Homo sapiens: one gene and its partner. The protein of the gene in region 1 interacts with the protein of each later gene in a pairwise test. Each region holds a gene or a part of one and is shown on either strand. Other genes may lie near its edges. The genes, in order: EIF4E3 and AANAT.

Evidence for each region.
Region 2: the proteins of EIF4E3 (region 1) and AANAT interact in binary tests that used the Homo sapiens proteins (3 or more experiments, as listed by UniProt).

What each region holds. Positions count from the first base shown.
Region 1 is NC_000003.12:71,670,563-71,685,832, reverse strand, and holds the end of EIF4E3 (eukaryotic translation initiation factor 4E type 3), read left to right. Parts: intron 1-1,104; coding exon 1,105-1,151; 3' UTR 1,152-10,419; downstream 10,420-15,270. UniProt on the Homo sapiens protein: Recognizes and binds the 7-methylguanosine-containing mRNA cap during an early step in the initiation of protein synthesis. May act as an inhibitor of EIF4E1 activity.
Region 2 is NC_000017.11:76,454,797-76,471,725, reverse strand, and holds AANAT (serotonin N-acetyltransferase), read right to left. Parts: upstream 4,124-16,929; 5' UTR 3,999-4,123; intron 3,055-3,998; coding exon of another isoform or gene 2,980-3,054; coding exon 2,817-2,979; intron 2,610-2,816; exon of another isoform or gene 2,554-2,609; coding exon 2,399-2,553; intron 2,062-2,398; coding exon 1,756-2,061; 3' UTR 1,609-1,755; downstream 1-1,608. Other genes in the region: RHBDF2 (inactive rhomboid protein 2), read left to right, coding at 1-93. UniProt on the Homo sapiens protein: Controls the night/day rhythm of melatonin production in the pineal gland. Catalyzes the N-acetylation of serotonin into N-acetylserotonin, the penultimate step in the synthesis of melatonin.

The DNA of each region.
Region 1 (15,270 bases):
TCCTGGTAATGGTTAACCAGATCCGGGAGGTAGATTGTCACACTCAGTCTTTTGCCTTAGAGAAAATGTTATGTATTTCGTAGGTCTCCCTGTGGCATCTTCTACTTTAAAAAACGTTAAGTGTTTGAAAATATTTTTGGTAGCATAATTTTTTTAAATTCCTGAGTTCCGGCTGGGCCTGGTGGCTCACGCCTATAATCCCACTACTTTGGGAGGCTGAGGCAGGTGGTTCACTTGAGGTCAGGAGTTCCAGACCAGCCTGTCCAACATGGTGAGACCCCCATCTCTACCAAAAATACAAAAATTAGCTGGACGTGGTGGCACACGCCTGTATCCCAGCTACTCCAGAGGCTGAGGCTGGAGAATTGCTTGAACCTGGGAGGCAGAGGAGGTTGCAGTGAGCCAAGATTGCGCCACTGCACTCCAGCCTGGGCTACAGAGCAAAACTACGTCTCAAAAAAATATATATATATTCTAGAGTTCCTAATTAAAATTAGTAATTTTGCAAGCCAGATGATAGGTCTGAATATCTATTGGCAGGGGGAAACTTGATTTGGAAAAATAAAACTTAGCAATTTTATGAAACTTCATTTCCCATGGAGAGTGTTGAGAGGTAGGGAGCAGGGGCACCTAGATATAATTGCTGTCACCCTGGTGTGGTTCTTTGTTTTGTTTTATTTTTAGTTTATTTTTAAAGATAGGCTTGTAAGCGGCTCTGTCTTGGGTTGTGTCAGGCACCCCCTCTCCCCACCCCCTGCAATGCATTTTGTGGGGCACATTTTCCCCTGCGGCATTTGCTTGCAGCCCAACATACTCTCTTCATCGGCTTGCTGAGATGACTCATCCTCCCAGGCACAGCAAGAAGAAACAGGCAGCATGCCCATTGCTTGTTTATTCCTTGTTTTAATTTTCATTATTACGTTTCTCAGGAAATGCACGCCTTAGCTAACAGTTACTGGCAAAAAAATAAATAAATAAATAAGGTGTTTGAGTTCTTGCCAACATTTGGGGAAGCTGAATGAGATGCCTAGAGGAGGGTTGGCCCATCCTTTGCTTAAAGTTTTCTTTCCTTTTTTTCTTTTTTGTTTTTTTTCTGTCCTTTAGCCCATGAAGAGCATCATGCTTTTGAAGGTGGACGTGGAAAACACTAATTGCACTCTGTAAAGAATTCTTTGTCCTTTGCTGATTGGTTTTGGAAACGGTCTTAACAGGAGGGAGAGTGAAGAGAAGACTTGCCGAAGCCGATGCTGGTCAATTTAGAGTGGGTTTCTGTCCTTGCAGATGGGCAATTAGGACTCAAAGTGGCAGGTGGGGTGGGGGGAGATTGTGTGGGTTTCTACCGTCACATTACTTGCTTTTTAAAAAAAACACACACAAAAAACTTTTTTTTTGGCTTTCTAAATTCTCTGTTCTTTTCACTCTGATTTTTTTTTTTTTTTGCCGTTTAAAATTCCTTATTCAGCCTAATTATTGTTTTCTACACTCCCCTTTCATTGAGGCACAAGAAATGGGTTTCCCTTTAAGTAGCTCTGCTGTACCTAGTTAATGAGAATATGCATAATCGTGACAATACTGCTTTTGAATACCACACTGTACAAGGAGGAACACTAGCTTGGAGAAATCTGTCTTCTGATTATTTGTTGTGACACATTCCTATGTACTGTGAGCTGGGCATTGTTTTTTTCTGTCCCAGGGAAAAGAAAAACCATACTTAATGTGATTTTGCACTGACAGCACACAAATCTTTAATTTTCCTTTTTAAAACATTTTTTTTTAGTGATAAAAGGAAAATAATAGTTGGATTGCATAACATGAAAACTATAATCACAATTCAGTATCAGGATATAAATCAAGCTCTAAGTCTTTGGACCCTCTGTGGAAACATTTCTAACCCGAATTTTAATTTGGCCTTTTCAACCAAAGGCTTAGAGTGGTAGCAAGGGATTTCTTCCAATAGGAAACCTGATGTTTCTGATTTAAAGAGAAGGTGATATTTTAATTGTTTGAATTAAGCTCCTTGCAAAGTTCGGGTGTGTTTACCCACTTAGGGCTTTCTTTCCCAGTCAACGCTAACACATTTTGTTAAATGATCCCTTTCCCTGCTCACATTGTGTGTCATTTCTCATCATCAGTAGTCCTCCAGCCTGGGCAGCTGTCCCCACCCTTTTTCATGTAGGTGCAGGAAGTTAAATCTCATTTCCAGGATGCATGTGAACATTTACAAAGTTGAACTTTGAGTGCATTCTGCTCATATGAATTATTGGGATTGTTGATATATATTGTATTATGCTACCAAAGAAATATTGGTTTTATTAGAAGGAAATGGTCATCCTCTGGACCATGGAGACTAGCTCAGAATACGCTGATTTCCCTCTCCTGACTTTGCCAAGCCTTTGGCTGCTTTTGCCTGATAAAGGGCAGGGCCATCTGAAGACACTTCCCCCAGTCGGCTTTGGAGTCACGGGAGCTAGTGCCTGCTCACACATTTTTCAAAAGGGCAGTGCACTCAGAACTTCACTGTACCTGGGATTTTTAATTCCTCTTGCAGTGTTGACCAGCAGAGAGACTTGAGGCTACTTTAAGCCTCCACTATGTGTTTGTAGATAAAATTCTCCATTCAAACATTTTAAAGGACTTTGAACATTATCTGCTTATGGAAGTTGTGCCCTTCACTTGGTTAGTAACCACCTCAGCCATAATACTTACCATCATAGGTTTCTTAAAATGCTTTTTTTTTTTCCCTAAACTTGAGTTTCCTTAGTGATTTCAAAATGAAGTATAAGAATATCAGATCCAGTTAGCAAAAGCCTAGGACTTGTTTCTCCAAACATTGTACTAACATTCAACTTGTTTTAAAATTATGACTCAAGAATTTTAAAAAATTATTCTGGACATGAATTAAAACTTTTTTATAATATAAGTATTTTTCTGATTGAAAAAAGGATATAATTGACTTCACTCTAATTGTCATGTATATTTCCATAAGTAAATGGATTTTGAAGTATTTTTATTTTTTGAACTTTATTTAAAGCATTTGTGATGACATGTTCAACTTTTGCATGTATGTAGCCTTTGAAGTAAAAATAAATAGGAATGTTAGGCTCACGTTAATATTTCTAGTTTCTGTTTATGATCATGGAACATGACTAGCACACAAAGTAGATTTTTGCCCCAGTGAACTTCTGCAACTGTTTCTGACCCTTTAGAAAATACCAACTGTGAGAAGGATTTAATTTGCCTAATGTTAAAAACCTATCATCTAAATTACTTTCAGAGAGGATTTTGTCAGATTTTGGTTTGGAAATTGTTTTAATTGAATATTTAATCATAATAGACTTTGTATGAACTAAGCTGATTTAATCAGTTTAAAAACCTCTCATTACCTTCTTAGATTAAAGAAGCTAATACTGTTTTGAGATAGAAGGAAATATTTTGTGGGGCATGTGACTTTTGTGTTAAGGCAGTTTACCCATCTTGGCTGATGTGGGGAAAGTGCAAACTTCCAGTAGAATCCCGGTCTTTTCATCCAAGTGCTTGCAGGGGCAGCCTTGTAGTCTGCAAAGAACCATGCAGAAACCAAAGAGCTTGCTTTTTTGTCTTTGTAATTCCTTAGGGTCTGTGATATATGCCAGGAAATCTGATTGAAACTAATATGCTTTTTATTCTCCCATTATTCCCTAAATTGTTATATCACAGGCACTTGCCTACATTGGGAAAGTAAGGACAAATAATACCCATTTAAAGTAACTTGCCTATATTTTGACTGTCTTTCGTAAGCACTTGCTGAACTGCTGACTTAACTCAGTTTTAAGATTTCCTCTTTCCCCCCAACTTTTCCACATTTCTTAAATGAGGGTGTAATTTACTGCAAACATGTACATTTAATATAATATTGCTGTTAGATTCGTGGTACACTTTATGAAGCAAAAACATGAAAAGGAAACCACAACTCTAATAAACTTTAAATTAAAGATTAAGATGACTCTTTCTCACCCCTCTTCTTGAGTTTAGCCCATGTCTACACCATGCACACAGTCACAAGACTTTATAGCTTAGAAACTTTAGGTATAATTGGGTCCTATAGACATAATATACAATCCACCAACTGAGCCTTGGCCGAACTTGTCCCTTGTTAAAGACGTAGGGCTAGCCAGCCACAGAGCTGGGTATTGAAGTCGGCAAGTTGTATCCCGGTGCAGGCGTCCTTAAATGGAGAGTACTCAGAATCTGCCAGCCTTAACCTGCCCACTAGCCACCCTAATCAAGCATTAAATATCTGATCCAATCTGGCCACTGGTGTAACTCCGTAATCAGACATCCTGTTTGTAAACAGCTCCTCCTTCTCTCCCTCTCCCTCTCAGAGACAGAAGTGGTGCTGGGGTTTGGAGTTTGAAAATAACCTTCCTATGACAGGAAGTGGGCTTTTGCTATTAGTTGCCCAACTCTTAGAGGATCCCAGCTTGTGTCTTTAGACAAAACTGACAGCCTTTGGAACGATCGCATGGTGGCGCTGCCTTCCAGCCAACAGTTCTGGCTCAGCAGCAGAATTTATCCAGCTATGTTTGTAGAATTTTTTTAAGATCCTACTGCATTTTGCTCTTAAGCTTTTATAAAAATTTGACGAGAAAATGTAAAAATGATACTTGGCAATAAGACATTTAGTTTTCATGCACCTAATAAAAATGTGTCAAAGCTAGATCGCTCCAGATGTGCTTAAAATATCTCAAATCCTAGGCTCTCATTGGCCTTATAAGTGATTGGGAAGAAAAAGAATAAAATAAACTCACATATAGGAGATATGGAAAATATTTCATCAAATATTATGCCCAAAGAGAGAAAATTAGGAGTTGATTTTTTTTAGCACTCTGAATATGGAACTTCCTTTTAAAAATGTAATTCTACCCTTCACCTTTCCTACATTGTATGTTTCTGTGAGATTTTACTCATTACAAGTGAAAGTAGAGGACTGCCTGTGAATTGTTCACTTCTGAAAAGAATATATTGAGATCAGTTAAAATTACTCAAGAGTTTGGTGACTCAGGATTGTAAAAAGCCTGGATCTCAACAGCTGGGAGGAGTCAGAGGGTGAAGTGGGAAAAAATAGGGACTGAGAGGCAACGAAAAGTCCCTTTGAACCTGTGGTCATTTATAGCAATTAGAGTGGGTTGCCCCTCTACTTCTCCCAAGAAGAAATCCCAAATAGATTCCTTTCATGTCAGATTATACTGTTCTGATTTTATTTTCTATTATTTTTACATATACATCCAAATCTAAGAATACTTATTCAGATTGGCCCACTCAGGCCAAAAGTCACTGTCTTGTGTTCTAGAAATTCTTTCATGTTGCTGACATAAATCCATTTTTAAAAGAACATTCAGGGACTCTTAGAATTTTAGAGTGGAAGGGACCTTTGAGATCATCTACCAGTGCTTCTCACCCCTTAGCATGCAGCAAAATCACTCAGATACTTACTTATTATTCACATTTCTTGACCCCAGCACTAGAAATCTGGGAGGATATCTGCATTTTTAACAAGTGCCCTAGTGATTCTAATGCTGATGGTGCTCAGATCGCTCTTGGAGAACCCCTGATTTTATCCAACTCCCACATATGACAAATGAGGAAAGCCTCCCAACCCTAAGCTCTGTCAGGTGACCTGATTCCAATGTATGATACCAACAATCTTATGAAGGCTGGAGAAAACCATTAATACTGAGACTTGAGTAGATGATGCTCGTGAATAAGAACTTTATGGCTGGGACCACAGCAGTCATGGGAGCCCATCCCTGGAAGTCCATAATATAAAGCCTTTAATACAGAGTGGTGGTTTTTCTCTTTTCTAAATACCATTTCAGTCTGTTAAGAGAAAAGAAATTAGTGTTCAGAAAAGTAGTTACTCCATATGTGCAGTAACTACTTTTCTATAATGTCTTATGGCATCTGGGGTTCAGCATCATTGAACAAGATTAAATGAACGTTATAGAGCTATAAAATTGCATGTAAAATAACACAAAACTGTTCAAATGACTATCAAAGTAGCCTGGGAATGAATTTCCACTAAAATTAATTGTCACTTTCAAAACGTAGCTTAGCAAAGCTGTTACTAAACTGGAGAGATCCTTTAATACATAGAAATGTCAAAAAAATCAAATAAGTATTCCCTAAACGATGTGAGTGATAAGCAAAAGTCATTGCAAAGTCAGTATTTTTTTGTTCATCATTGCTACTGAAATTCAGAGTTCCATTGTATATGTGTGTCTTGAGTGTACCTTATTAGAATATCCAATACAATAGCTTTTGGATATTCTATGCTTTTGTGTCCTTCAGAAATCATGAGATTGAAGGAATCTGTGTTAAATGTTTTTGTTTTGGTTGCTGCCTGAAAAAAGTTACCAACTCATTTAGTGAAATGCAAGATTTCTTTATGAAAATTTCAATTTCTAATATCGAAGTCAGATAATTTTTCTTGAACTTTTATTTTGGAACAGATGTTTATTTCGGATCTATTAAAGTGTCAACTTTGCATTATAGAACTGAACATGAAGTAAATTGAGTGTTTCTGAGTTTTCTATAGAAAATTTATGCTACCTCTCATCTTTTCACATACAAATAAGCAACTTTTAATGAAGGCTTAGGGTGAAAATTTTAATTTTAGCACTTTACATTACATGATGAATGGTGAATATTAAAGGACTTTGAACATTTTAATAAACTTACAGTGTTTCTGTTTTCAAATAGAGGTATTGATGCTGTGGATATACATTAAATTCTCCCCAAAGTTCTCAGACTTTAATCAGATAATGTGGCTTACAACCATTGTTTTTGTTTTTAAGTTTTAACACTGTCTTTTCAGTATTCATTTAAAACAAGTCACCATGACTTTGAATATATTCTCATGGAGAATTTATTTCAATGATTATATAAAAGAATTTCAAAATTTAAACTAGTGAGCATACTTTAGCTTGAGACAGCTAACATTATTTGTCCCAAATTTAAAATCTTACATTGAAAGTTATTAATTCTTTAGAATAGTCTTACCTGTGTAAGTTGAACCAGGTTTGTTTGATTATGTTTTGGATCTGCTTGTGCCCCCACCCCCCTATTTTATACCATCTGTGCCCTGTGCAGTTGGGGACCCTTTCACATCTGGCTACAAGCTGGTGTAATGCCCTTCCTTTTGATCTGGCTTCATCTAGTGATTTGCTCAGTATTTTTAAGGTCAGACTGAAAACTTTTCTGTTCTAGTTATTTTTGATTTTATATTGTGTGTTGTGTTTGATGTTCAGATACATGTGAAAGTTGCTTCTATAAGTCAGTATTTTTTATTCCAGCCTTTTGCAGCAATAAGGTAAGACTAGACTATACTTTTCTTACTTGAAAAGGTAGTGATTTATGTGTTTAGTGCAAATGTTTAGACTGTTTTGCAATTTTCTAATTTGGGACTATATTGCTATGAATTTGTGCTTCTTCATTTTTCAGGGTAGTAGTTCACAGGGTTTGTTTAAGTGTTAGTTTGTAGAACTTTATTTTGAGATCTTTTGTAATCTGTTGCTACTAATTCTCATTCTGTATTGAGGTTCTTATAGTATAGAAATGTCATTTTCATCCTCCAGTTTAAAAATTTCATGCAGTTTAATCAACCACATCACTTAATCATTATTAGATTTCCAGTGTGTGTGTGGTGATTAGAATAACCTTGTTTATTACAACACATATTAAAAGTTTCTGTCCAACACCTCTAATATGTGTGACGCTGCTAGCATGGAGTCTGACGCTTAGTAGGTTATCTGGTATTCTGATGGGGAGTAACTGTTGTTATTTTTACACTTCCCTGTTGAACACATTTGATAATAGGGCTCATCTGGGTCTCTTAGAAAACGTATCTTGCTTATTTTAATTCTTTTTCTTTACCCTCTATTAAGAATGGTTCCGTTTTAGAATAAGTCAATTACTCTCGTTGCTCTTTTGTGCTGCAATTTGCTGGTGAGATTCAGTTGTCCCCTGTTTCGGCAAGTAAAGTGAATTTACTCCTCCTTTCTGGCTGTCTAATATATTCCTTTAAAAACAAACAAAACGTACCAACAAACTCTTCTTCCATTCATCTGCAGACTTTCCTATCTCTCCCTGCAGAAACAAGCAATTCAGGATCTTATGTGTGATGCCTAATTAATTTTAACACAGCGAATTTAATGAAATCGTTGAAGAGCAGGGCATAACACTAGGAAGGCTTTAAAATTTCATAATGTTTCCCTCTCATATTTGCATCTGATTACTGCCACCATGCATTCTGTGTGTACTTTATCATCTAGTCGTTATTGATGCACTTTTTGGAATGTGTTCTCGGTTGTTCTATTAGCATAGGTTCCTCTGCCTTGTCACCTAACGTACAGTTTTCTTGGAAGCCAAGACCATGCATGCCTTTTCTTCCTCAGTGATCCTTTCGCTGCAGTAACTGCTATTAAAGAACTTTTAACTGCTTTTCGTTAATGAATGCATAAAAAAATCTCTGGAATCCTACAAGACGATGGTTCTTTTGTTACATGAAGAAAAGAAAAAACAGTAGCATTTGCAAGGGCCAGCAAGTTAAAATATATGTCATTAAAATATGTTTCTATTTCCCATCATCTGGCTAGGCTGTGGTGCTGACTAGCTTATTTCTTGCCAGAGAAAATAAGTTTAAATCATAAGCATATTTAACTAGCAAGCATAAATCATAAATTCTTTATAATCGTAAGCATGTTGAACTCTGGTACCATTTGTACAGATGGCAGGGCTAAATGTGTGTGCTCCTCTAAGCATTAAAGATGTGGACAAGCTCTTACTCCCCAATTTCCTCTTTAACTCAGGAAACTTAAATCATTTGTTTTTTGCACATATAGGATTATATAAAGTATGGACCTAGAGAAAGGTTTCAGATCTTAGGAAACATTTGAGTTTTGTGATTCATGCTTACTGGAAAAGAATGATGGAAGTGAAGGTTAAACACTAAAGCCGTGTCCCCTTTTTAAGGCGAAAATAATTAGTGTTTCATGAAGATAGTCAAGTTATAAAGGACAAGACTGTTTTTCAGAATTTTTTTTTTTTTTTGAAAACAAACATCTTGGAATCCACATTTTAACAGAGGTCCATCAGCTTTCAAAGAGTGTTCCCTAGAAGGGTGGTTCCACAGAAACACTTTCAGATATGGCAAAGTTTTCATTGTAAAATACATTTTAAGAAGTATTTTTAAAAGTGTAATAAAGCAATAACACACAGTGACATGCATCACATGGCCAAATTTTAACATTTTGGAAGCCAGTAAGTATAACTTATGTACTCACTGATTTTGTTTTATGAAATGAAACAAAGGTTTTATAAAACCTTTTTATTGTAAAATAAAGGTACAGAAAACCACACAAAACAAATGTGTAACTTACTGAATTGTTACAAGGAGAACACTCTATAACAGCAGGCCAAGAAATAGAACTTTGCCGGTCACCCCAGGAGCCCTTTCTTGTGTCCCCGCCCTCTCCACTAAAATAACCATTATCCTGACCTACAGGAGACACTTGCATTTCTCTCTGGTTTTATCACAGGTGATAAACATCATTTTACATATAGAATCTTCTCTAACTATGAACGTTGGTTCAGAAAACTTATTTGTAAGTCTTTTAAATGATGAGTGCAAAATGACACACTATAAGCAATTGATACCCCCGTAAGTTAGTAACTGGGCAGAATTTAATGTGCTTTTGCTGTAGTGTGTGGCTCTGTCCATAGCTATAATATCCACAATAACAATAGCATGTATGGAGTTCCATGCCATCTAAGCATAGAGGTTAGTTCTCCCCAACACTCTACGAGGTAGATGCTGTCATTGTTGTCCCCAGTTTGTGTATGTGGAAACATATGCATGAGGTTCAGAGAGGTGAAATAACTTGCCGAAGGTCACACCAGTAGTCAGTTGCAGAACCAAGATACATCTAAGGTACTGTGGCTCCAGCCTGTTCTTCAGTGAGGCTGCCTTGGTGGAAGTTGAAGATATGATGTGCAAGAATTTTGAGATTCCTTATGAGAGTTTGTTTACAAAGAAAAGGTTTTACAGCTTTAAGAAAAAGATGGAAAAATCACTGGCCTAGTTCAAACTTTTCATTTTACAGATGAAGAAATGACCCAGAAAGTATAAAGAATTCGTTCAAGGTCACACAAGTAGTTGGTGGCAAAGTTGCAGCTATATCCCAAATCTCCTGGCTGTTAAAATCAATGATCTTTTCTTCATTCCATATATTATGTGGAAAAAATGCATGTTTTCTAACCTGCTTCTTTGCGACAACTCCATGTAAGCAGATTTGTCTTAAAACCAGTTTATAGCTAGGACACACCATCTACTTGCTTATTTTCTCAAGGTTTTAACTGGGAATTAAAAAATTTATATCTGAAGCTTGCTTTTCTGTCTCACTTATTGAGTGCCCAATCTGCAGACACACATGCCTAACACTCTTCTCCAAAGAATGTACAAGAATAACACATTTGCTGGTGTGGATGGCAGGTGAAAAAGAATTACTGATGTAGCGTGTAGGCCCTTCAACATATTCACGGCCAATTCCGGATTATCCCAGCACAGATGGATCATGCAAAATCCCTCTTCTACTTCTTACTGGTGACCTTTAACTATTTGTGTTTGCAAATGCTTCTACCAGGGATTGGAAAGGAGAAGAGCAGAGAAGATGGAATTTGGTTTCTTGACCAGAATGTTAGGTGTTCTGGTAAAAGGTTTGGTGGTTTTGCCACTTAAGAGTACAGGGAGACCGTAGGATTCTCTCTGGATTTGAACTTGTCCGGGATGCCCAATTTAGCCTTGAATATGAACAATCAGAAAGAAAGCAAACTGACGCAATGCAAAGAGCTTAGTTTGGAATTTGCTTTATTGGGTTGAAATTCTATTCGCTTGTGCCTTGAGCAAGTCCCTCAACATATCTGAGCCCCAGTTTCCTCCTTTTTAGAAGGGCAAGGTAGAGCTTCTTCAAAGCCAGTAACATATGAAGCACCCAGCTCAGCCCTTTGGATGTGGTAAAGAGTTAGTAAATGGTACTTCCATTGGTTGGCTGTATCAATTCATCCATACAGTGAAGAGAATGAACTGCTTCAAGGAAACTTTCCCACTTTCCTCCTCAGGTATTGGCCCAGCTTAACTTGTTTGAGGTCCTACAACAAACAGTGTTGAGGTGGCAACACTGTGGCCAAACCCATTAGTCTTCTAACTGCTTGTTTATGATCTTTCTACCTTATTGTACCATATTGGGAAAAAACAAATCATCCCCATTTACTTGAGTTCTGTGCACTTGACTTCTGCGTTGATTTGCCACAAACCAACTTAAAACCGAAATGAACTTTCCAATTATTTTCTAAGAGCATTATTGCCATCATAACATAAGAAGGAAGTTCAGGGTCGGGCGCAGTGGCTCATGCCTGTAATCTCAGCACTTTGGGAGGCTGAGCTGGGTGGATCACCTGAGGCTGGGAGTTCAAGACCAGCCCGGCCAACATGGTGAAACCCCATCAATACTAAAAATACAAAAATTAGTTGGGCATGGTGGTGCACGACTGTAATTCCAGCTACTCAGGAGGCCGAGGCATAAGAATCACTTGAACCTAGGAGGCAGAGGTTGCAGTCAGCTGGGATTATGCCACTGCACTCCAGCCTGGGCGACACAGCGAGGCGCTGTCTCAAAAAAAAAAAAAAAAAAAAAAAAAAAAAAAAAAGTACAGTTGATGAAAATGTTTTAGAGGCTGAACAAATTCTCACTGAAGCATAAGTCTCCTATTGTCCATCTTGGATTGCAGACACTCAAACTTGTCACTGAGGGGACAATTGTGAGAAGCTCCCAAGAGTTCCCTGTATGATGTGCATATTATGTTTTTTATATATATATATATATATATAATTATTATATTATTATTTTAATCCTGGCTACCTTAAAGGAAAGTTAATAGGCCTTAGTATTGCTGAGATATAGACCATATACAATATTGACTCATTAATTCAACAAATATTTCTTGAACAGCTATGATGTGTTAGGCACTGGGGATACAAAAACAAGACATGACATCATTCCTATTTCATGGAGCTGACAATTTAGTGGATTGGTAAATATTAAAACTGAACTACTAGACTATAAGAAATGCAGGAAGTGTATCTTAGACATTTTTGAGTTGCACATACCTGGCATGTAAGTATGAATGCAATGCATGTTTGAATGAAGGAATGTTTGAATGTTGTCATAAGCGGTGTTTTTTTTTTTAAGTCAAAAACCCCTTAGATTTCTAAAGCTGAGTGTTTTTTTACTAATCTCATTATTGTTTTCAAATTCTCCAATAATAATAATAGCTTAGACACTGAATTCAGTAACCACAGAGGCTGTTTATAATTTGTTGGTGCTTTTTAAACATCTTTGAAAGCCAAACAAGCCCTTGACTCCTGGCCAATAATTCACTGTGTCTTCATGTATATACCTGAGGGGTAGCAGTCATCAAAAGGCCTGTGCACCAGCATGTGAAATATGGGGATCCTTATACTGTGGAATGTATAAAGATTGCTTACTCTGTAATTTTTAAAAGCCCTGTAACTCTTTATAAAGCATATATAGCATCTGAACAAGAAATATGACACTAAGTCTAGGATTAAATAATATCTTGCGGCCACTACCTTATGCATTTTCAGCAGTTTGGGAACTCCACTAAGTGCAGGTCAACAAGCCCAGAGCATCATAAATGAGCATCTGTCCCATGACCCAGCTGGAGACCCCTTCCGATTATTCATTCCAGAAGCACGTGCTGACACCGGGTTCAGCCCTCGTGGCTCTCTCACTCACAGTGGTCTTTTAAGATTGTAGAGAGGTCAAATCCTTCCACCCCCATGCCTTGTGGAGTGGCTAAATGTTTTCTGGGTCTTACTTGCTTTGTAGCCCTGATAACTCTATTTTTTAAATTAAAGTAAACAAAAGAGGGCCCCAGCCAGGGAGCAGTCCAACCCAGAAGACGTGTGTGGAAAAGGTTTAAAAAAAAAAAGAAAAAAGATGTTTTAAATGAGAACAGGCAGCTCTGCGGAGAAGAACTTGTTCGATTCGGCACCACTGCTGTTTCGCCCGCTGACCTGGACTTTGCAGCCCAAGTTCATCCTTCCACTTCAAAGGCCGGGCTCCGAGCAGATCACACGTTTTACTTGATGACAAATTAATCAAACTTGATTTCTTGGATGAGATGGATACAAAAGAACTACAACTCCCCAAGGCCTGAAAGTCAATACAGCCCTTCTGGCTCTGATTAGGGTAACAAAAGGATATCTGAGAGCCATCTTCCTCCCTGCTCAGGCTGTGGGATGGAACTAAAAGCAAGCCGGGCTTGTAAAGGAGAAAGGCCTTATTAAAACACATTTCAGCTGCAACCAAGTGCATGGCGAGCCCTCCTGACAAGAGAAAATTACTTTTTAGTAGATGCTCACCTTTTCTCAAGAGCAAAGTTTCCACTTAGAAGAACCTAGAGGAAGTAGTATATTATGAATCTGAAATGTTTATAGATCTCGCCTTTTATGTTTCTGCTGTGAAGATGAGGTTAAAAAAAATCGCCCGGTGATATCTGGCAAATGTTAGAGAGAGCCCACGTTTGGTTAAGTAAACTTACTTCTGCTGGGTTAAAAATGAAACTCCCCAAGTCCAGGGAATTTATGTACCTGTTAAGGCAGGACTAGGACAAGGTAAAGTAATGGCTTCAAAATGCAACTGCTCTGGGGCCACTCCGGCAGCCCACTCATGTGAGAGGGCGAAATAAGCCTTCTGCTAAATCGGGGAGCGCAGGATTTCAATGCAAAACCCTCTTAGCAGCTTTGTCATCCTCCTGTTCTGCGGAGCATCCAAGGACATCGCTTGCATCCTTCTTGTGATTGCTCTATGGTCTATATTTAGAAGAATTGCTGTTGCACAAAATATGGTCCCCTGACTGTTCTGGGGGTGCTTCATGTCCTTCCCAAAAAGGCTTCCAAAAAAAAAAATGGAGGGTTTATACCTTTATAGCACAATTTTTAAAAGAAGGCCCTGATGAGTGTTTCCTTTAATATGTGGGCAGCATGCACAAATCTATATACCGTGGGATCTTATTTTGTAAGTTTGTGGGATCTGCTTCCACGCAGCCGCCCCGCCGCCCGGAGAGTAGGGAATGAGGCGAGGGATGGTTAAGTATGCGGAGTGAAGTTGGGTCACACGGGCCCATCTCTCATTTCTGACACTCAGTTTGAAGATCCTTCAAGTGTCTTTCTGATCCTGACAGGCAGTTTTTAAAATGTTTGTGGCATTCCAAGACGCTTAATAATTTAAAGCTGTATTTTAGATTCCAGCAATGAGCACAATACCCCGAGAGTTAGCCCTCCCCCTGCGAGCGGCTCCGGATGCTGCCATGCTGTCTCTCCCACTCTTCTCCGACACGGGTGCTCCAAGCCGCGGCCAGCCAAGCCCCTGGTCTCTCTGCAGCCCTCTGCTGGGCCCCCTCCTGCTCACCCGGTAGGGATGCTCTGAGGGTGAGCCAAGGCCCCCTCCTCCCCAAAGCCTGTTCTCTGCTCTCCAGCAGAGAAGAGCTTCCTTTCCTGCAACAGAGAGGGCACTTGAGTTTTCTTTTAGCCTCCTCTATGGCCTTCGACTCATTCCACGCATAGTGTGTATGGCCATTGTAAGTGTGGCACTAGATTAAGGGTTCCCAGGCCTTCTCCCACCTTTACATCACACACAGCTCTGCACACAGAGGTTCAGCTGTTAGATGAGTTGAAGGAGCAACATTCCCACCAGCTCATCCGAGATCCCATCTTAGGAAACCCATTCTCCGCGCTTGGGGGATTGCTGTTTTGGTTTGCGAAGTGAGAAGACTGGCTTCCTCAGCCTTACACCCCAACTTGCTAGTCTTGTGACCTTAAGTGAGCCACCTAACTTCTGAGTCTCAGTTTCTTCATCTGAGTCACAGGAATAGTGAATTCTCCCACCACAGAGTGTGAAGATTAAATGAGACAATGCACGCGAAGGCTCTTTTCGTGCTATCCAGTGTTTCTCATGGATAGATCTTGATAGTAATGCTTCATGGTACCACAGTGGTCTGACCAAGGTGGGCCTGTTTTTGAGATACGTGGCCAGTTGTTTTAAAATTCCATTCTACAGTAGAATCCAGAAACCTCTCAATTTCCACAAAGACCCCCATTGTTAAGGACAAAAGTAATACCTGCTTATTTTAACAAAAACAATACCAGTAGCT
Region 2 (16,929 bases), on another chromosome or scaffold:
CCCATTAACTGGCCCTGGATCGAGCACCTCACCTGCTTCCCCTTCACCAGCCGCTTCTGCGAGAAGTATGAGCTGGACCAGGTGCTGCACTGACCGCTGGGCCACACGGCTGCCCCTCAGCCCTGCTGGAACAGGGTCTGCCTGCGAGGGCTGCCCTCTGCAGAGCGCTCTCTGTGTGCCAGAGAGCCAGAGACCCAAGACAGGGCCCGGGCTCTGGACCTGGGTGCCCCCCTGCCAGGCGAGGCTGACTCCGCGTGAGATGGTTGGTTAAGGCGGGGTTTTTCTGGGGCGTGAGGCCTGTGAGATCCTGACCCAAGCTCAGGCACACCCAAGGCACCTGCCTCTCTGAGTCTTGGGTCTCAGTTCCTAATATCCCGCTCCTTGCTGAGACCATCTCCTGGGGCAGGGTCCTTTTCTTCCCAGGTCCTCAGCGCTGCCTCTGCTGGTGCCTTCTCCCCCACTACTACTGGAGCGTGCCCTTGCTGGGGACGTGGCTGTGCCCTCAGTTGCCCCCAGGGCTGGGTGCCCACCATGCCCCTTCCTCTTTCTCCTCCTACCTCTGCCCTGTGAGCCCATCCATAAGGCTCTCAGATGGGACATTGTGGGAAAGGCTTTGGCCATGGTCTGGGGGCAGAGAACAAGGGGGGAGACACAAGTAGACCTCAGGTAGAACGACACTGGGCGGAGCCACCCCAGGGCCTGCTCCCAGGGAGTGCTCGAGGCGCATCAGGCCCGTTTTTTACCAGTTTATATCACGGTCTTCATTTTTAAAAGTAACGCTAACTTTGTACGGACGATGTCTCATGGATTAAATAATATTCTTTATGGCAGTACATTGTCTTTAACGGAGACCTCAGGTAGCATGAAACTGGGATTTGGGGGTGAGGTGAGGGGTCAGCCATCAGCTGCTCAGAGACAGCAGTTTGGCCCGGTGGACAGCAGAAAACTTGTGGAGCATCTTGGGGAATTAGTTGGGCCAGAAAGCAGATTGGGGTCACGTGGGAGACCCCAGGGGTCCACTTGGGAGGGCTGGGTTGAATCCTTAGGGCCCTGGGGTTCCCACCCCTACCTGTTCTGCCTTGGCTCCAGAGCAGGGAAGGGGCTGCCTGGGCCCAGGGTGGCCTGCCCTGATGGGGATGGCACTGAGGGGACCTGTCACCCCACCCGGGGACGAGTCCACTCCCTGTGCCAGTGCCTCACCCACCACACTGAGGATGGCCAGTGAGGCACCGGGTATGACCACTTGATTACCATGGGCAGAGGGCCCTGCACCAGCTTCCCTGCCCCAAGCTGCCTCTACAGCACAGGCCTCCCGCCTCTGCCCCATCCTGCTGCTCCCCACTCTCCCCCACCCTAGGGGCTAAGGGTGGGAAGCGGCATCCATGAGGCTGGGGAGAATAAGGACACCCCCCCCCCCCACCGAGCAATGGGCTACTGTGAGGATGCCGCCTTGGTGCCTTTGCCCACCTGCCAGGAGGAAAGGAGCCAGGAACCCCACAGCACCTCCCATTGTCCCCGCTTACCAACCCAGCCCGGTCTCAGGTACAGAGTTCAGAACACAGGAGGTCCAGAGGCCTCGTGGGGACAGACAAGACACACCACTCCAGCTCAGGCCGTGAGAAGCCACCTTATCTCCTCTTTATTTAGCCCTGCTCTCTCCACTCTCTGGAAACTGCTGTCTCCATGCTCAGCTGAGCTAAGAGGAGCCCAGGGCAGAGACGGGGATCATGTTGGCAGCCAGGTGGGCAGCCCAGTTCAGCAGCCGCTGTTCCTGCGCAGGAAGGGGTGGCCCCGCAGGGAGCAGTGGAGCTCCATGAAGGTGAGGGAGCCCACGGTGATGGCGCAGGGGCCCACGGCGTGGAAGCTGAACCTCTCATAGAAGGGTACCAGCGCGTCCTCGCACATGAGCGCGGCCCGGCGCACGGCCGGCTGGCTGCCCAGGTGGTGCAGGTAGCGCCACAGCAGGATGGGGCCCCTGCCCTGCTGCCGGAAGGCGCGGTGCACGGCCAGCACATGCAGGTGGGCTATGTGGCCCCCAGACCTGTGCAGCGTCAGTGACTCCTGGGAGCGAGCAAGGGATGAGATCCCAGGTCACTTCTGCTGACACGTGCTCCCCCCCAACCACCAACCCAGGCAGGGAGCAGGTGTCCCCTGGGTGCCTGTGGTCAGGGCACCCACCCCAGCAAAGGAGGGCCCCAAATTGGGAGCCATACCCCCAACCCCATGGAGAAAACTTGAAGACCCAGAAGGTCTTGCTCTGGGAGGGGCCTGTGGCCTGTACTCATCTCTCCAGTTCTGGAGGAAGAAATCCCAGCCCCTGGGCTCCCCTCCCCGCCATCTGGCTGACCTCTGTCTTCAGAGGCCTCCCTGGAGCTGGGCGTCGCAGCCCTGTCCTCACCTGCATGAGTCTCTCCTTGTCCCAGAGCGAGCCGATGATGAAGGCCACAAGGCAGCCCTCCTCGAACCAGCCCAGGGACAGCTCTGGACATAGGGTCAGGAAGTGCCGGATCTCATCCAGGTACAGGGGGCAGACGCCCAAGACGGAGATGAAGGCTGTGGCAGGAGGCTCAGGTGGGTGACTGGTAGTCGCTGTGCCTCGCGTCCACTGTCTGCTGCACCCCGAGTGTCCACTCAGATGCCCCGTTCCCCACAGGAAAATGGGGGTTAGGGCTGCTGTTTCCCCCACTTTCTTGAGCGCACACATGGTCTGATACTCTGGGACCCAGCCTCCAAGGACAGGAGACTAAGGGTCTCCTCCCCACAGGATAACTGGACCAGAGTGGAGCATCCCTCTGACCCTGTGCGGGGCCACTCACCTTCACGCTCGATCTCAAAGGCGCTGACAGCGTCCTCCGGGGTGAGGCAGCGAAACTCACTGGCAGGGAGTGTGTGGCGCCGCTGACAGCTCGGGGACTCGGGGATCCCAGGTGGCAGACGTGGGGCCTCAGGTTTCAGGGGGTGGGTGCTCTGCGTGGACATTCTGGCCACTGGTGCCTCCTTGGGGCGCCCCAGCTTTGGAAGTGTCCTCCTAAGCCAAGGAGGGCCTCCCAGCACCTGTTGGAGAACAGCAAGGGACAGGGGTCTCATCCTCATCTCCAGGGAGGCAGGCCCCAGAGTATGTATCTGGCCTCTTTTGTAGCAGGAACTGGGGTGGAGACAGCCCCTAAATCAATGGGCACATTCCCCAGGTACCTGGTCCCCGAGGCTGTTACCAGGCATTGCAAACATTGGCACTGTCTCCCCACCTTTCCCTCTCAGCCAGAAGGATCCCTGGAGGTTTGCCACCTTGCAGACCTGCAGACATTGGTCTCAGGGTGCCGTCTGGGTGCTTCTGAGCCCCAGAGATGGTGGCAGGGATGAGCAGGGCTCAGTGGAGCCTGGGGCACCCCAACCCTGCTGCCCACGGTGGGAGGGGAGGCAGGACTCGTGACCCTCCACTGACCACGTCTAATGCAACTGTGCAGTGGGTGGGCGCCCGGTTCCCCCACACCACCATTCATGTGGTTTATCTTACCTCCCCAGAGGGAGGCTTCTGGTCCTTTGGGTGCAAGATCCTGTGGCAGAGAGCTTTTTAGGTAGCCTCAGCCCTTGGTCCTAGAGAGCCCCTTAATCAAAGTGGGCCCTTAGGGAGCCTCTACTTCTATCCAGATGGCCTCAGACTGGGCCACACACATGCAGGATTTGTGGTGGGGGGTGGGGAGGTTAGAGGGAGCCGGGGGCTGCAGAGGGCCTGGGGAATGGGGAGGAGCAGGCAAGGAGAGTGCATAGGACACCCCCTGCCCCACACATCCAGCTCATCAGACATTCCCCTCTGGGCACTCTTGTCTCCCAAGACACCCTGCAGATTTGCAGTTCTTAGAGGAGGCCATCCCTCCCTCCACCTTCCAAGACACTTAATAAACTCCATGGCTTCCATGTTTCCCTCCATGTCTAGAAGCTCCAAGTAGAGAAGCTCCTGTTCCTAAAGGCTGAGAGCCAGGAGTGGGGGTCCCACCTACCTGGACTGTGGAGAGGATACCCAGTGTTCCCTCCACAAAGCCGCTAGCCCTGGGGGCCTGTCCGCAGGCACGGGAACCAGTAAAATCCGGGACTCCGGGCTGCAAGGCTGTAGTAGCAGATGTTCCCCGGGCAGCCTGTGGTGCTGTTAGAGGTTTGTAATCCCCCCACCCCACCTCTCGAGCTATCCCAGGCAGGATGACGCCAGCAGGGCTCTGGCAGCCTCGGCCCCTGCCTTGCTGAAGGGAAACGTCAGCTCTGGTGCCCTGGGCACAGAAGGGATTACCAGAGGCTGACTGAGGCCCCAGGGTTTGGGGAAGAGAGCGTGGGGCTAAGCCTCAGGGGTCCATCTCTAATCCCTGCTCTGTCACCGACTGGCTGGGCACCAGCGATTCTCCCTCTGTCCCTCGGAGTCTTGGACAAGCCCACCTCTTATGTGGGGGGAGGGGGTGGGAATTCAAGCTACCAATTTGTGCACTTTAAGTACGTTCTACTTCAAGTTTATTTAAATATTTAATTTAATTAAATATTTAAATATTCAGGAGGTTGCCCTACCAAACATCTCAACTACAAAGCTCTCTGCTATTGACCTTGGCTCCACCCATTCCCAGGGCTGCCCAGGCCTTGGCACTTGGTGCTGGCATTCCCTCGGGATGCAGGCCCCTCTCCCTGTTGGCTCTGACTACCCCCTGCCCTCCAGCTCACACCCCATCCTGCACCCCTTAGCTCTTCTCTCGCCAGCACCTGCCTCTCCGCCCCACCCAGCAGTGCAGATCCTGTGTCCATCTCGGGCTCCTGGGGGTCCTGGAGGTTGGATTTCACAGGTGCACTCTTTTGACCCCCTGCAGAGGAAGCTTCTGCTCCTACCCACACAGCTTGGGACGGACCTCTGAGGGTCCTTCCTGTCCTGGCAGCCTGTGAGTGCCACTGCTTACAGCACTTGCTATGTGCCGGGCCCTGGATACGCGTCTCCTTTAATCCACACGGAAGCCCGGCCAAATGAGTATTAACCACGTTATAGAGAAGGAAACCGAGGCACAGACAGGTTCAGTAACCTGCTCAGAGCCATCCAACAAGTGAAGGGGGAGGGGCAAAGCCGGGTCAGCCTCCTGACATGCACTGCCACGGCTGCACTGGTGGGACCCACTCATCTCACAATGAGACTCCTGTTTCCTGTCTTCATGATTCTCCTGCTGGTTTTCAGTGTCCTCACAGGTGCACTCTTTCGACCCCCCCGCAGAGGAAGCTCCTGTTCCTACCCATACGGTTTGGGACACAGCCCCTGACCGTGGAGTGACCCCGTCCCGATGCCCCCGCCCACCCACCACATGCATTCCTCCTGTCTCTGGGTCCCCTTCTCCCAGGGCCCCTCTGCACTCTGAGGCCCACCTGCCTGCTAGAAGGGACCCTCAACAGACCTCTCAGGACCGACCAGAGACCTCCTTGGGCTTGGTTGGTGGGGTGGTCATGTCCAAGACCTCAGCTGGGCATCCCCACCTTCAACCTCCAGGGTCCCCCAAAAGGCCTCTTCTGTCCCTTCATAGACTGTGGCTCCATGGCACCCCCTGGTGGCCAATCCTAATCAGTCACTTGGCGATGCCTGAGAAGAGCCTGCTGTTCAATCGGCCTCTCTCTTTGCTGACTTCCACATGGCCCTGTTCTTTCCGGACAACACCCTAGAGGTCTAGAACCTCAGGGAACAAGATGAGGCAGTAAGCCAGGCACAGTGGCTCACCGCTGTAATCCCAGCACTTTGGGAGACAGAGACGGGAGGATGGCTTGAGCCGGAGAGGTCGAGGCTGTAGTGACTCGCCACTGCACTCCAGCCTGGGCGACAGAGCGAGACCCTGTCTCAAAAAAATACAAATAAAAATAAATTTTTTTTAAAGATGAGGCGGTATGTTAAACATGGTGAAACTGGGAAGTTCAAACCCTTGTGGGACAGGAGAGGAGACAGGGGAGGGCAGGGTGATCGCTGGGACCTTTGTCCTGGTCAACAGGAAGAAAACCACATACCACCACCAATGAGAAGGAAAATAAGGAGGGTGAGGGGCCCAACAGGGTGATGGGTACAGAGAGAAGGAGATCCCTGGGGCTGGGCATAGTGGCTCACACCTGTAATCCCAGCACTTTGGGAGGCCAAGGCAGGAGGATCACTTGAGCCCAGGAGTTTGAGACCAGCCTGGGCAACATAGCAAGACCCCTGTCTCTACAAAAAATTTAAAAATCAGCCAAGCATGGTGGCACACACCTGTAGCCCCAGCTACTTGGGAGGCTGAGGTGGGAAGATCACTTGAGCCTAGGTGGTTCAGGCTGCAGTGATGAGCCACTGCACTCCAGCCTGGGTAACTGAGCAAGATGTTGTCTCAAAAAAAAAAAAAAAAATCCTGACCTCAGGTGGGCTCTAAAAAAGAAGCACCTCCGAGATCATCCTCACGCCAGGGACACCGATTGCACTGTTTATCAGATGCCCAGTCTTGTCCTGCTATTGCAGTTAAGAGTGCTGGCAACGCCTCTGGTGACTGCCTCTCAGGTGGATCTTGGGGATGGGGGGGAGAATGTGTCCTTTGCCCCCCAAGTCGTACCTGTTCAGTCACTCTAGACAGCTGATAAACACCTAACCTGATGGGCAAGGCCGGGCACGGTGGCTCATGCCTGTAATCCCAGCACTTTGGGAGGCTGAGGCGGGTGGATCACCTGAGGTCAAGAGTTCGAGACCAGCCTGGCCAATATGGTGAAACTCCGTCTCTACTAAAAATACAAAAAATCAGCCAGGTGTGGTGGTGGGCGCTTGTAATCCCAGCCACTTGGGAGGCTGAGGCAGGAGAATTGCTTGAACCCAGGAAGCAGAGGTTGCAGTGAGCCAAGATCGTGCCATTGTACTCCAGCCTGGGCAAAAAGAGTGAAACTGCTATCTCAAAAAAAAAAAATATATAGATACAGACAGGGAGAAGCTGGCATCTGTATGTTTCCCAGGGGTGCTGTAACAGATGATACACAAACTGGATGACTGTAAACCACAGAAATGGCTTGACGTCGTGGCTCATGCCTGTAATCCCAGCACTTTGGGAGGCCGAGGCTCTTTGTTCCCAGCCTCTCCCTCCAGCAGCAGCTCCCTTGAAAGTCCTGTATCCACAACTCACCCACCGCGACTCCCTGCCCAGTGTGTACCATGCCACCCTGCCTCACCCATGATGGCTCCCCTCAGGGGTCCCCCTGTCTCTCCACCCAGCCTGGCCTCTTTCGATCTCCCAGACAGATTTACACATTTCAAATGCCAGATGGGGTTCAGTTTTCTCCCAAAAGGCTCTTCGGTCCCATGAAAATCATGGTCTGTGACTGGGCTTCCACTTCAAGACTCCAGAATATTCTTTTTTTTTTTTTTTTTAAGACAGAGTCTTGCTCTGTGGCCCAGGCTGGAGTGCAATGGCACAATCTCGGCTCACTGCAACCTCCGCCTCCCAGGTTCAAGCAATTCTCCTGCCTTAGCCTCCCAAGTAGCTGGGATTACGGGCGCACACCACCATGCCTGGCTAATTTTTTTTATTTTTCCTAGAGATGGGCTTTCGCCATATTGGTCAGGCTGGTCTCAAACTCCTGAACTCAGGTGATCCACCTGCCTCAGCCTCCTAAAGTGTTGGGATTACAGGCGTGAGCCACCGCACCCAGGCAGGACTCCAGAATATTCTATAGCAGTTTGGAGAGGGGTTGTCCAGGGCACACAGAGAACTGCCAGGGACCATGCTACCTAACTCCCCACCTGCCCTGGTAGAGCCTCACCTCTGACCCATCAGAGCCCCCATCCCACTCCTAATCAGATGTGGTGAGGATGATGACGACAGTTATTGAGCGGATAACTGATATCATGACAGTAAAAAAGGTTCTGAGAGGATGTGTATCACCACACGAAAGCTGAGAACCAAGCTTTTGGGATGTCCACTGTTAGCAGGGAAAGGAGTTATTAACAGGAACACAGGTGAAGCCACAAGAAGGGAAGAACCCAGGGGAGAATGTCCAAGAAATGGGGCAGATAGAGCCTGAAATGCCACAAAGAATGGAGAACAGATCTCAGATTCTGCCAACAGGGAGGCTCCGATGACCTTTAAGAATCCTTCCAGAAAAGGCCGGGCACGGTGGCTCACACCTGTAATCCCAGCACTTTAGGAGGCTGAGGTGGGTGGATAGCTCGAGGTCAGGAGTTCAATAGCAGTCTGGCTAACATGGTGAAACCCCGTCTCTACTAAAAATACAAAAATGATCTGGGCGTGGTGGTGGGTGCCTGTAATCCCAGCTACTCGGGAGGCTGAGGCAGGAGAATTGCTGGAACCCAGGAGGCAGAGGTTGCAGTGAGCCAAGATTGCACCACTGCACTCCAACTTGGGCCACAGAGCAAGACTGTATCTCAAAAAAAAAAAAAAAAGGAATCCTTCCAGAAGGGAGAAATGGGTGGAGAGGCCAGATGCAGAGGAATGGCCTTAATGGTGACAGTGAGAGGTGGAGTGCAGAGGCCGTTGATTAAAGGCACACTGACTCGCTGCCACGGCCGGGGGTTGGAGAAAACCTCCCCACGGCCCCCACCCCATCCCGGGCACCGAGCCTGCTGCAGCTGCTGATACCCCCGGAGAGCCTGGTGCAGGGGCAGTGAGCATCCCCACCGGGCCCAGTGCAGAAGCCCTGGACCTGGAATCTGGGAGCTTCCCGCATGGAGACACACCCCCTCCCCTCCGTGTGTCAGCTGCCCAGTTTCACACCCAGACTGAAGGGAGCCCATTTGGGGCAGACCAAGGAGTGGGCCCCATGGCCATGTCCCAGGGACACCTTGACGATGCCTCTGAGATACCGGTTTTCCATGCAGAGCAGTTGAGAGGCCCGGCGTGCAGGAAGCATAGCCCTCTCTTCAGGCTCTTGTGCAATGGCTGCATTTTTTTGGTGGTTTCGATGGTCACTTTCTCTCTCAACTCCTCCCCTGCACTAAAGGTCTGCCCCACAGACCTGGCACTGAGCACATCTCGCGTTATCGTCTTTACCTTTCCAGCCTGAGTACTACCACGTGGCAGGCTCCCCGGGGGATGAGAGATGGAGAACTGTGTGCGGCAAGTTTATTGGGGAGAGGTCTCATGAGCGACCCCTACCATGGAGCAGGGCAGAGGGCTGGACAGTGGAAGCTGAGCCGTGATGGTGCAGCTGTAACCGAGGCCTTGGCGCATCCCCCGAGGAGCTTCAGACTTGGGAAGCCCTTCTGGACCCACCTCTTTGTCCTGCATCAACCTTGGGTGGAACAGCTTGCTTCATTGAGGGCAGTTGCAGGAAAATCCAGCTGGGAGCCGTCAGCAGTCCTGCCCACTGCGGGTAAGAGCCCTGAATCACTTTCTCCAAGCTTCCAAGTACCAGGGTCCTTGCCAGGGTGATAAATTCTGTAACAGGGAAAAGAGCTCCCATACCAACACACGTTCCTTATCCAACTTTATGCTCTGATCCCCTTGGCCCAGCCAGCATCCTCTGATTCCAGTCCCCACTCTCCTGGCTCTGGCTGGGACCTGCAGCTCCTTCAGGACAGAGCCTCCTTCCTCCCTTAGCCGACCCAGCACTTCACCAGTAGGTGAGGTTGCGATTTAGCCCTAGTTACTGGCCCAGTGCAAGAAGAGGAGGTGCAGTATATACTCAGGGTTGGGAAGGGGGTAGTACATGTCTCCTAAGGAAGAGGCATTGTCCCCAAGGAAGGAGGGGCACTAACCTCTGTCCCTGGATGGCTCCCGCTTCTCCCCAGGGGCCTCCTCTGTATCGCTGACTCATTAAGGTTGGGAATTCAACCTGCTCTCAGGCTCTGCCATGCTGACTTCTCTCTGTTCCTTAACTTCAGGAGGCGAGTTTCTTTACATGCTGCCAAGGAGGCCCTCTGGCTTTTCCACTTTGCCTTCAAGCAGTGATTCTTCACCCCCAGCCTCTGACTGCCTTTCTCCTCTGCACTGACTGCCCCAACAGCCATCCAGCCCCCCAGTCCTTACACTTACTCCATCCCTGTACCTCTCAGACACCTGAGATGTTGCACCCACCACTGACTGATTGATTGATTGATTGATTTCTTCCTTCCTTCCTTCCTTTTTTTTTTTTTTTTTTTTTTTTTGGTGGAGGCTCACTCTGTCACCCAGGCTGGAGTGCAGTGGCACAATCTCAGTTCACCAACCTCCACTTCCCAGGTTCAAGTAATTCTCCTGCCTCAGCCTCCCAAGTAGCTGGGATTACAGGTGCCCACCACCATACCCAGCAAATTTTGCATTTTTAATAGAGACGGGGTTTCACCATGTTGGCCAGGCTTTGTGCCCCTTACAGACAGTCAGTGGTTGGGGGAGGCATCTTCTTTTAGCCAAGGGCAGTGTTTGGAGAGGGATGTGATGGGGAGGTGCACCACAGCATCCACTACACACCTGTCCCCCCAAGAGGCTTATGCACTCCTGGAAAACAGAGGCTGGGTTGAGAATGTGGCATCGTGCCACCCACAGAGCAGGTGCCTATCAGCTAGAGGCACAGTCTTCTGTTTTTTTGTTTTTGTTTTTGTTTTTTTTTTAAGATGGAATCTCACTCTGTCGCCCAGGCTGGAGTGCAGTGGCGCGATTTCGGCTCACTGAAACCCCCGCCTCCCGGGTTCAAGCAATTCTCCTGCCTCAGCCTCCTGAGTAGCTGGGATTACAGGCACATGCCACCACGCCTGGCTATTTTTTGTATTTTTAGTAGAGACGGGGTTTCACCATGTTGGCCAGGCCAGTCTCAAACTCCTGACCTCAAACAATCTGCCCCCCTCAGCCTCCCAAATTGCTGGGATTATAGGCATGAGCCACCACGCCCGGCCCAGAGTCTTCCGTTGAGGTGGGTGACTCAAAGGCAGGGCTGAGTGGGACCCTGCCTTATTTGGGGCTCAATATCGCCGTATTAGATAGGCACTTACCTCAGGAACCTTCCAGACCATTCTGGAATGGAAGCATCCAAGGCAGGGAGGGATTGCCACCTCCTGGACAAAGAAGGGACCTACGGCTCCCCAAGTAATGGAGCCAAACTGCCCAATAGTAAGATTGTGTGAGCCCCACATGTGATTTTAAATGTTCTAGTAGCCACATTTTAAAAAGCCAAAAGAGGCTGGGCACGGTGGCTCATGCCTATAATCCTGGCACTTTGGGAGGCCAAGGCAGGAGGATCGCTTGAGCCCAAGGAGTTCAAGACCAGTCCGGCCAATATAGTGAGACCTTCTCTCTATTATTTTTTTTAATAAAAAAATAAAAAACAGGCCAAGCTTGGTGGCTCATGCCTGTAATCCCAGCACTTTGGGAGGCCGAGGCAGGTGGATCACCTGAGGTCAGGAGTTTGAGACCAGCCTGGCCAACATGGCAAAACCCCATCTCTACTAAAAATACAAAAAAATTACCCAGGTGTGGTGGTGGGGCATTTGTAATCCCAGCTACTCAGAAGGCTGAGGCACAAGAATGTCTTGAACCCGGGATGCGGAGGTTGCAGTGAGTCGAGGTCCTGCCAGGACACTCCAGCCTGAGCAACAGAGAGAGACTCTGTCTCAAAAAAAAAAAAAAAAAAAAAAAAAAAAAAAAAAAATTTCCTGAAGTAGGTGACTGAGGCTGGAGCACAGAGCACTCCATGCTGGATGCAGAGGGGGAAGGGGGGTTGGAAGGATCAGATCAGTTTATGAAAGGCCACATGCACCTTCTTGGGTGGACCCTGGGGAGCCACAGAAAGATATAAAGCCAAGAGTCCAATGACCGTGCTTGCATTTTCAGTCACCCTGGGAACAAGGCAGCAGACAGATTAGACGGCCTGGGGCCTGGTGAGGGGCCTACAGCCGAGGTCTAGGCAAGAGATGGAAATGAATTCCTAAGAAAAGCTAATGTTATCAGGCCTGCCATCATGCACTCACTGGGCAAAGCACGTTATATTCAGTTGGTCAGTTACAGTCTCCACAGTCCTATGAAGTAGGTATTATTATTATTCCCACCTTACAGAAAGGAAACTGAGGCTTAGAGAGTAAAATAACTTGCCCAAGGTCACATAGTGACCAGCAGCAGCACAAGCTTCAAACCCAGGTCCCTGTGACTCCGGAAGCTCACTCTCAGCCACTGTACCTCCCACCTCCCCACATCTCCATGGATCTGCCCCCCTGGTGGGGCAGCTCTGGACAGGAAGGGTGTGAAAAGGCAGTGAGGGGCCAAGACCCAGGCTTTGATTGCATGTAGAGCTTAAGAGTGAGGGCTGACCCTCAGGTGGCCAGCTCAGTACCCAGGTAAGTGATACTGCCATCCATCAGGATGAGAACTCTGGGAGAAGAAACTATTTGAGGAAAAGATGATGAGTCTACTTTGTACCTATGGCTGGTCACATCCAGGAAGCACCCACGAGTCTGGAGCTGTGGGAGGTGGCAGTGGATAGGCTGACATATTGTTCTTGAAGCTGGTCCAGCAGATTCACTGTGCCTCACCCTGTATCTTCAGGAAGGAGGGAAACAGGACGAACCTGGTGATCCTATGCTGTCACTATTGCTCAAACTTTTCACTGTTGCCCCAGCATAAAGTGTTTTGCCCAGTGGATTGCAACCCACCCTCACAGCAGGAGTCAGAATGGCCAAGGGCCAGCTGGGCTGGGTCCTGATCCTGACTGTACTGCAGAGTGACCTTGGGCAAGTCCCACAGTTTTCCCAGGGCACCTGTGCAAGGAGCAGGTGAGGCTCCAGGAATGAGAAGGGCCGTTTTAACTCCAAAAGCCTTGAGCGGCATTCAGCTGGAGCCTCGGAGGCATTTCTTCAGCCAGCCACATGAGGGTGTGGGGGGTTTCCCAAGGCAGCTCACCTCCCACCCCACCCCCCAGCTGAAGTCCCCAGTGCCTAAGGCACCCTAGCCTTCCCAAACACCTGCTCCAGGGTGGAAGGAGCTCTTTGGGCCAGGCTGAAATCGCTTGCACAGCAATGGAGAGGCCAAGCAGGCTCCCGCAGAGGGCAGTGTTGGGCCTGAGCATACTTTGTGGGTCCAGAGAGGTGCTCCAGTGGCTGGTTAAGATAGGGACGAGACAGGGCCTGCTTCCCTGAGACCAGTTCACTCTGCTGCTGGCTCTGCCGCCTCCTGCACACCACCCACCCCACTTAGCAAGGGGAGAGGCCAGACCAGCTCAGTTTCTGGAAGCACATTTATAAATAAGTGAAATCCTCCCAAGAAATAGCTCTATTCCCCACGAAAGGCTGGGAGATGGGGCCATGATAAGAGAGGGTTTCTTCATTAGGGAATCAAGTTTTTTTCCTCCTTCCTACACCTCAACAATGACAAAAATAAAAACTAAGCAGCGGCTTCCATCCACACTTACCCTGCTAGCCAGCCTGAGTGTATGGAGACCGTGGCTGGGGGCTCAGGGTCTGGGAAGGAGTCAAGCCTCAAACCTTATCCAGAGCATCTTGGGTCTGAGTGAGGTCCATAAAAGACACCATCGGATGGGTAGGAATTTACTGAGTCTCATTCTCTAAAGCAGCTCAGATGCAGTTGAAACTGGGGGCACTTGAAAGGATTTGGAGCAGCCAAAGAGGGCAGCTCTGTCCCAGCTTCTTCAACTTTTGGTTGTTGGAAAAAGGATAGGAAACTGACAGAATGGAGGTACAGGTTCTCAGGCCTTTGATATCCGCTAACATGATAATTTTCTTTTTTTCTTTTTCAAGACGGAGTCTTGCTCTATCTCCCAGGCTGAAGTGCAGTGGCACAATCTCAGCTCACTGCAGCCTCCGCCTCCCGGGTTCAAGTGATTCTCCAGCCTCAGCCTCCTGAGTAGCTGGGATTTCAGGCGCCCGCCACCAAGCCTGGCTAATTTTTGTATATTTAGTAGAGATATGGTTTTGCCATGTTGGCCAGGTCTCAAGCTCCTGACCTCAGGTGATCCACCCACCTTGGCCTCCCAAAATGCTGGGATTACAGGCGTGAGCCACTGTATGGGCCTAGCCTAATACGACACATTATTGAGCTCCATCCCTATGCCAGGTACTGTCCTAGGCACCAGGGTTACACACACAAATACAACATGGTCCACATGCTTAAGGGTTTAGTCTAGTGAGGGAGAGATCAGCATGTAAAATCAAGGAGTCTTACCTCCAACCTGGCAGTATCCTGATAATCTATGTAAAGCACTTAGTAGAGTATCTGGCATGAAGTTACAGCTCAATAAGTGATAGCTATTATTAGCCATTATTACAAGAAGCCGCAGAATAAACACAACACGTCTTCCAGGAGTGCCGATATTACTCAATGATTAGGGAGGAAAGGGCATTAGTTTTTACATTAAAACAACAAACATAGGCATACTCTGGAGTACAATGCAAAACTCACTTGATTTTTTGACAACAAAAGCAGATTTGAGGCCGGGTGCGGTGGCTTATGCCTGTAATCCCAACACTTTGGGAGGGCAAGGCGGGTGGATCATTTGAGGTCAGGAGTTCGAGACCAGCCTGGCCAACATGGTAAACCCCGTCTCTACTAAAAATACAAAAATTAGCCAGCCGTGGTGGTGGGCGCCTGTAATCCCAGCTACTCAGGAGGCTGAGGCAGGAGAATCGCTGGAACCTGGGAGACGGAGGTTGCAGTGAGTCAAGATCACGCTACTGCACTCCAGCATGGGCGACAGAGTGAGACCCTGCCATGAAACAAAAAGCAGATTTGAGGTCTGCACTGCCTTATCCCGCCGTGGGACACATAGACACATGGACTCCCCTGTGCAATCAGGAGTTCTTCTGAGGGAAGCCTAAAGAAATAGCATAACTACAAAAGCCCCTGCCCTTAGAGTGGGGAAACTCCTCAGGTTACTACCTGTTACCTTAGGCGCCAAATTCCTTGGGCCCTATTTCTTCATTGGTAAAATGAGGTTAAAAACTCTCTATATCCAAGATTGTGATAACAGACAAGATAATGTGCTTGGAAGTACCTGGTACAATGCCTGGTCAATAATATGTGCTTAATAAATGCTATGTTATCAGGGGGCAAGAAAACAGGGCTGAAAGGGTCATGGGAGGCAGAACAGAAGCTACTATGTTACTGCTGTTTAATCTCCCAGGTCTCTACAGGAGAGGGAGTAGGGACCTGCGTCCTTACAGCAGTGATTCCAGATGGTCATTTGGCATTGTGTTCTGGGATGGGAAGGCCATGGTTTGAGAACCCAGCCTTGCCCCAAAATCATATCCTAACTCCCCCTTCAGCTGATTCAGCCCATTTGTTCTATATCTTAGTAGATAAATTTTCTAAGATTTGGGTCCATTGACAACCACCCTGATCCCAATATTACATCAATACTCTATTAGTACTTGGCCTAAGACATCTTAAGTACTTAGGCTGCCATCTGTTTTGTGCATGTTCTTTTTTTTTTTTTTTTTCCTGAGATGGAGTTTTGCTCTTGTTGCCCATGCTGGAGTTCAATGGCTCGATCTTGGCTCACCACAACCTCCACCTCCCGGGTTCAAGTGATTCTCCTGCCTCAGCCTCCTGAGTAGCTGGGATTACAGGCATGGGCTACCATGCCTGGCTAATTTTGTATTTTTAGTAGAGATGGGGTTTCTCCATGTTGGTTAGGCTGGTCTTGAACTCCTCACCTCAAGTGATCCGCCTGCCTCAGCCTCCCAAAGTGCTGGGATTACAGGCGTGAGCCACCGTGCCCGACCTTGTGCATGTTCTTTTAACTTTTCTCTCTCTTTTTTTGAGACGCAGTCTCGCTCTGTCGCCCAGGCTGGAGTGCAGTGATGTGTTCTTGGCTCACTGTAACCTCCTGCTCCCGGGTTCAAGCGATTCTCCTGCATCAGCCTCCCGAGTAGCTGGGACTACAAGCATGCGCCACTACACCTGGCTAATTTTGTGTTTTTAGCAGAGACGGGGTTTCACCATGTTGGCCAGGGTGCTCTTGAACTCCTGACTTCAAATGATCCATCTGCCTTGGCCTCCCAAAGTGCTGGGATTACAGATGTGAGCCACCACACCCAACCAACTTTTCTATGAACATAGTTCTGTATCTTCAGGATCCTGTAAACAACACAAAGAGCTGGGATTCTGCCTTCTTTGAAGAACCTAAATACTGTAATATCCAACTTACTAGTCTTTCGTTGATGATCGTGTAGAAAAATGTGGAAAAAATGATGTTGACTGAGAAAGGTTAGGGCCAGATCTTGTTTTCCTTAACAATCCATTTAAATCTGTCCTCTGAGAATGTATCTAAACCCTTTGAAACTTAGGTGACACATTAAATTAGAGTTAGTTTTTTTCTTTTGAGATAGAGTCTCACTCTGTCACCCAAGCTGGAGTGCAGTGGTGTGATCTAGGCTCACTGCAACCTCCAACCCCCAGGTTCAAGTGGTTCTCGTGTCTCAGCCTCCCAAGTAGCTGGAATTACAGGCGCCTGCCACCTTGCCCAGCTAATTTTGGATTTTTAGTAGACATGGGGTTTTGCCATGTTGGCCAGGCTAGTTTTGAACTCCTGACCTCAACTGATCCACCCACCTTGGCATCCCAAAGTGTTGGGATTTCAGGCGCAGTCAAAGTGTTGGGATTTCAGGCGTGAGCCACTGTGCCCGGCCTAGAGTTACTTTTTTTTGAGACGGAATCTCACTCTGTCGCCCAGGCTGGAGTGCAGCGGCGCGATCTAGGCTCACTACAACCTCCACTCCCCAGGTTCAAGTGATTCTCCTGCCTCAGCCTTCCGAGTAGCTGGGATTACAGGCGGCTGCCACCGCGCCCGGCTAATTTTTGTATTTTTAGTAGAGACAGGGTTTCACCATCTTGGCCAGGCTGGTCTTGAACTCCTGACCTCGGGTCTCCCACCCGCCTCGGTCTCCCAAAGTGCTGGGATTACAGGCAAGAGCCACCACATCCAGCCTTTTTTTTGTTTTTTGTTTTTTGAGACAGAGTCCTGCTCTGTTGCCAA